2 separate regions of the Homo sapiens genome follow, and region 1 is linked to region 2. Evidence: fine-mapped expression QTL. A gene starts in region 2. The other region holds a variant in brackets. All regions are shown on one strand. Distances are from middle to middle.

Region 1 (2,922 bases), 69 kb before region 2:
TAGGGAAATACCATTCTTGAGATGCCAGTACTCCCACCAGAAATCTCTGCAAGCACTTTCAGCTTCCATCCAGACAATTTGAATTTCAACTATGTTAGACCTCTGTGATATATTTAGAAAAACCAGCTTCAGAACATTGCTAAGGTAGTTACAAGGGTCTAAACATTTTAGAACTCTGTCAATTAGCTCAGTGGTTGTGTAGAATGGTGTTGAAGAAAATTTAATAATGGTGGCATTCAGAAGTTCATTAAGAATGTGTATGCCATGGTCTAAATGTCTGTATCCCTCCAAAACTCATGTTGAAGTCTGAACTCCTAAGGCGATGGTGTTAGAAAGTGGGGGCTTTGGGTGGTGATTAGATGGTGGTCACAGAGCCCTCATGAGTGAGATTAGTGCCCTTTTGAAAGTGGCCCGGGAGGGGACACTTCATCCCTTTTACTGTGTGAGGACACAGCAAACAGGCACCACACGTGAGCCGGCAAGTAGGCCCTCACCAGACACCAAATTGGCCTTGATTTTGGGGTTCCCAGCTTCCAAAACTGTAAGAAATAAATTTATTTACAAGCCTCCCAGTTTATGATACTTTATTATAGCAGCCCAGATAAATTCAGACAGGGTGGTTGACCAAAAGTGATCTTATATTGTTTACAAAAGGCAAACCCTTCACAAGAAACAAGAGGTATTTTGAGTTCACAATCAGTCCAGTGAAGCAATATTATGCTAAGAAGGATGTTCTTCTGTTTGCTACTCAACATTGAAGATGTGAAGAATGAGAACATTTGGCTGGAAACGGCACCTAATGAAACAAACACCCACTGGTGGGACATAAACAGCTATAGGCATAAGACAAACCATCTCGGCCCTCCTGAGACTTGCAAGATCTAACTTCTCCAGGCAAGGCATTTATATCTTTGGAAATGCATGAGGTTTTAATTTGACCAAGAATAAATGTTTAAGTATGCAAGAGTTAGAGAATGGCAGCCACAGGGCACCATTTTAGGTTAAAATAGTGTGCATTTATACACACACACACACACAGCAGCTGGAGGGAGAGTATGGCTCTTGGAAATTTTGAAGCAATCACTGTTTAAAGTTCATGGGAAATTCACTAAATCATTGTTTTGAGATTTGGGTTTCATATATCTTGTACCTCTCCTTCTTTACAGATCCTTGATGAATTGAAGATATTCAAGGAGGTAAAAAGGGATCAAACTGTAGTGCTAGTTTTACTACTGGTCAAGTCAAACTGGGGATATGGCTGGGCTTTCCATCTCCTTCTAGGAATCCAGACTGCAGGATCCCAGTTTATCTTCTCAGGAGTAGGCAGAAAGGCTGGAGCTATATAGGGTACACCTGATGGCTCTGGGTAAGAGGCATCTAAGCCTGGACAATAAGGCAATCTAAGCGCCCTGGACCCCTACCCAGCTCTGTTACCCCACCCCCGCCTGTATTTTCACAATGCTCAGCTCTCATCATTCTCACCAAACAACACACACACAACGCACAAACACACACACACTCTGCTCTACCAAGTACAGGAAAAACCTCGCGTTTGATGACCAGGAGGAATTGTTGATTCTATGGGAATTCTATTTTAATTAAAGAAAAAAGTTCTTTCATTGCAAATACTTCCAGTTCCACTGCAGATTCCTAGCAGAAGCTGTCACATGGAAAATCAACTGATTCTGCACATTCATGGTTAAAAGAACGATTTCAATAGCAGTGGAAACAATAATAACATCAACAAAAAACAGAATAAATTGTATCTATATTACATT[T/C]ATTATGAAAAGTGAGATGCAAAAAAATCATAATCTAAATTTTTTGATGGTAAAACTAAGTCATTAGTTGAATATCAGAATTTTAAGCATCCATTCAAAAATCAAATCCAAAATGAAGGTGTAAGTATACGTAATTCCAAAATCTTACTTCATCTTTGTATAAATTATAACATTTCTTCTTTTTTCTAGGAAATGAAGTTTTATTGGTCAATATCTGGAGGATGAGAACTTTCTGAAATGATTTTATGGCCTTTGTAAACATTATAATGTAGACATTATAAAAAAACATAACTTTGGATTTTAATATTAATACATTCATAAATGGACTTTCCATTTTGAATATTTTTTCTTGTAATATTATACCACACTTTTGATCTTTCTTAGTTGAGTATTTACACACATAAATGATTCTCATATTGAAAACTGCAATTTTTAAGTTATAATTTTTCTGGGTATTATTCAAATTAATACACATCTTTCAAAAATAATCACATAAATTTATCTTTGAAGCAACCATAAGTATTGACAAACATCAAGATTTCAGGTATGCTGCACTTATAAACATGTATACTTTTATTAGTTAAAAAACACTGCCACTCTAGTTGTAATTGTAGTGTTCTTATAGCTGGTTAATCTTTTATTTTTATTTAATATACAACGATGGCACATTCGTTCTCTAAAACATGAATATGTTTTTAAATGTTATTCTTAACTTTCTACTGAGAAGTGGTTGTTTGTACTTTGCCAAATGGAATTCTCTATCAAGGGGTGATTCTGGTATTTCCATTTATATTTTCTTTTTTTTGAGACAGAGCCTTGCCCTGTCTCCCAGGCTGGAGTGCAATGGCGCGAACTTGGCTCACTGCAACCTCTGCTTCCCAGGTTCAAGTGATTCTCCCACCTCAGCCTCCCGAGTAGCTGGGATTACAGGCACACACCACCATGCCCGGCTAGTTTTTGTATTTTTAGTAGAGACGGGGTTTTGCCATGTTGGCCAGGCTGGTCTTGAACTCCTGACCTCAGGTGATCTGCCTGCCTTGGCCTCCCAAAGTGCTGGGATTGCAGGTGTGAGCCACCACGCCCAGCCTCCATGCATATTTTCAATCTGATACCCAACCAACGTAATTTTTAGTGTCGAGGATTC
Region 2 (2,922 bases):
AACTAAACACACACAAAAACTCGAAAAAGAACATTCTCTAACGCAAACTCCTGTCTTTTGCAGATAGCAGCAGAGATTTTCTGCTTTGGGCTGTGACTCATGTACCTTTATTCCCACAATTGTTACTCAGGGCAGGCCAATGGTGAGCACAATGGGAAAAGAAAGAATAGGTTATAACTGGAAAATAAGCACATTCGGGCGAAGTACACTCAAAGCATTATCAAAGTAAAATATGCAGCAGCACCAACAAGAGCAAACAAAAGCCCACGCAGGAGATGTGTAAATATTTCATGAAGCAAAGCCTTAATCAACCCTCTCTCCCAAATCTTGCTGGTGTTGTAAACACTTCAGTTTCTTCTAGTCCCACCATGACCCAGATACCTTGCAAAAACAAAATAAAAACATAGTCCAATGGATCTTTAAACAAATGTGTTGTGAAAATATTTAGATGGAGCATACCCAAGTACCGCTTTAACCAAGAGGAAGAAGACACCTTACTCAAAGGTGGGTGCTTCTTGAGTGACTGCTCAGAGCTCTGTTTCTCCCCTCCCCCTCCAAGCCCTTGCCTTTTGCCCACCTCCTCGGCTGCTTTGTGGACATTCACATCGTCTTAACCTTGAACTGCCTACACCCCAAGCGGTGATTTCTCCCAATGGCCCTCCAGAAAGCCCTTGAAACCTGGTCTGGATTCGATGCCTTCCCATCACCCAAAATTCACTTCCCAGTGGCATATTAAGTACCTCTCCTTTTTTCCCTCTTTCACTGTCCATTATTGCGTCTGAAATGATGCCTACATCGTTTCCATCTGCCTGGAGAGCATGAAGATCTTCTGTGTGTGTTGGCTGACAGGCTCCTTCAGACCTCTTCTAAAGCCCATCTTGAAAGAACCGTTTATCACCTCTAGTCTCTACCCTGATTTAATGTGGTTCCAAAGTTCGCCTCTATTAGTGAACATGTCTCTACAACGATTTCCCTTTATCAACCCCTGCCCGCCCTTCCTCTTCTTTCTGCCTACCTCAAGAAAACCTATTTACATATGCATTTATGTATGTGTGTGTATATACACACACATACATACATCCATATGTAATATATATTTCTATGTTTTGACCTTAAAGGGGATAAGCATAGGAAAATGAGACAAATGTCACACACACACACACACACACACACACACCCCTCATATTCGGATATTCGCAGTGTGCAGACCCGATTGATTATAAATTTCCCTGCCCACGATCAGCAGGCGTCTTCTCCCATTTACCTTCAAAGCCAGAGCCAAAGAGAGCAATGACCTTGCAGAGAAATTCATCACCTGCGAGAAAGACTGCCCCTCCTAGAGCGCAGGATGGGACAGAGACAAGAGCAACAGGCAAAGGATCCCTGTGCAAAATGTGGGACCGAATCCCTTCCGCATCCCTACAGAGCACACCACCAGGCTCCGGTCCCCCGCGCTGGCCGCCAGGCGGAGGTGCGCAGGGGGCGTCTCCTACCTGCTCTGCCCGGCTCCGCGGCGCGGCGGGGCCACTGCCTGCGCTGTGGCGGGGGCTTCCCGTCGCATATCCCAAGCACCGTCTCTCGGCGCCACACCGATGGCTCCGGCGGGCCCGCGAGCTGAGGTCCTTCTCAGCCCGGTCCCGGAGCGAGCTCCGTGCGTTCAGGAACTGAAATTACTATGCCAAGAGCAGAGGCGGCGCGCAGCAGTCGGGCGTAGACCGAGGGGGCTGCCCCCACCGCGGGGCTGCAGACGCCGCCGCCGCCCCCGCCGGGCGCAGAGCCAGTTTGGAGGTGAGAGTTCACTTGCCCGACTGTTCATCCGTCAGGCCCGGGGTGTACCCATCTGTCCAGCGCTGCCCAGCCTGAGCATCCGAGAGAGGGGCGACAGCTTTGCAGGCGGCGGCGGCGGCAGCAGCAGCGGCGGCAGCAGGAGGCCGAGCTCCGCCCCCTCCAAACCCCCTCCCCCGCCTTCCCGGTCCTGGGGGAAAGTGTTGCAGCCCAGGCTGCTGAGCGCCGGGCCGGGAGCTAGGAGGGGTCTGGTGGGTTGTGGTTCTGCACCCCTGGAGACCAGAGACAGATGGAAAGTTAAGAAGGGATTAAGGAAGAGGGCTGGGGACCCAGAGCGATTTAGCAGGCATTCTGGCCCTTGCTCCCTCCCACAGGTCACCAGACTCCATGGCTGAGTCTAGACTCTAGCAGAAGGTTTCCAATAAAGCCACGTGCAGTGGAGATCTGAAAGCAAGATCATCCGATAAGTAATATGTTTTGCAAAATGTACAGTATCCTGCGTATTCGGAGAGGCACTGCTGACAGTGTTCCTGTCCCCATCCCCTTCCCGCTACCCCATGGGCTTGGAGGGCTTTGAGGGCTTTGGAAATCTTCCCTGTTGAGCAGCTCCAGAATCCTGAATGGATGTGTAGTATGGTTAGCAGCTGTAGATGGTGCAAAATGATACGATGAAAAGAGCTTCATTATTAACTGGGTATTTGTTGGAAGGCTCTGTGAAAAATGCCTTACATACAGCCTCAGCCTCTTTAATTCTTACTACAACCCATTGAGGTGCCTTACCATGTGGACGAGGAAACAGGCTTATATGATCTAAACACTTTGCTTGAGGTCACACAGTAGTAACCTGCTCAGCTGGGATTCAAACCAATCCAAAATATATCCTCTCATCTAGTACACAGGACTCACCTAGGGGGTCTTGTTAAAATGCTGATTGTGATCCAATAGGTCTGGGGTAGGGACTGAGGAAACGCTTTTTTAGTTTTTTGTTGTTGTTGTTTTTTGTTTTTTGCTTCGTCTCCTAGGCTGGAGTGCAGTGGCGCGCTCTCGGCTCACTGCAAGCTCCGCTTCCCGGGGTCAAGCGATTCTCCTGCCTCAGCCTCCCAAGTAGCTGGGATTACAGGCGCCCACCACCACGCC

Evidence for each region. PIP is the estimated chance that this variant, and not a neighbour inherited with it, causes the effect.
Region 1: its variant is fine-mapped to the expression of GPRIN3 in whole blood (TOPMed, PIP above 0.99).

What each region holds. Positions count from the first base shown.
Region 1 is chr4:89,237,097-89,240,018 of GRCh38, forward strand. GPRIN3 (GPRIN family member 3) reads right to left here. Exons shown (of 2, transcript NM_198281.3): 2 at 1-2,922. Among named protein-coding and RNA genes, the nearest start is that of GPRIN3, 69 kb to the right of the region's middle. The variant T/C (reference allele first, on the strand shown) is at 1,779.
Region 2 is chr4:89,306,122-89,309,043 of GRCh38, forward strand. GPRIN3 (GPRIN family member 3) reads right to left here and starts at 1,679. Exons shown (of 2, transcript NM_198281.3): 1 at 1,494-1,679. RefSeq lists silencers at 1,629-1,678, 1,689-1,758.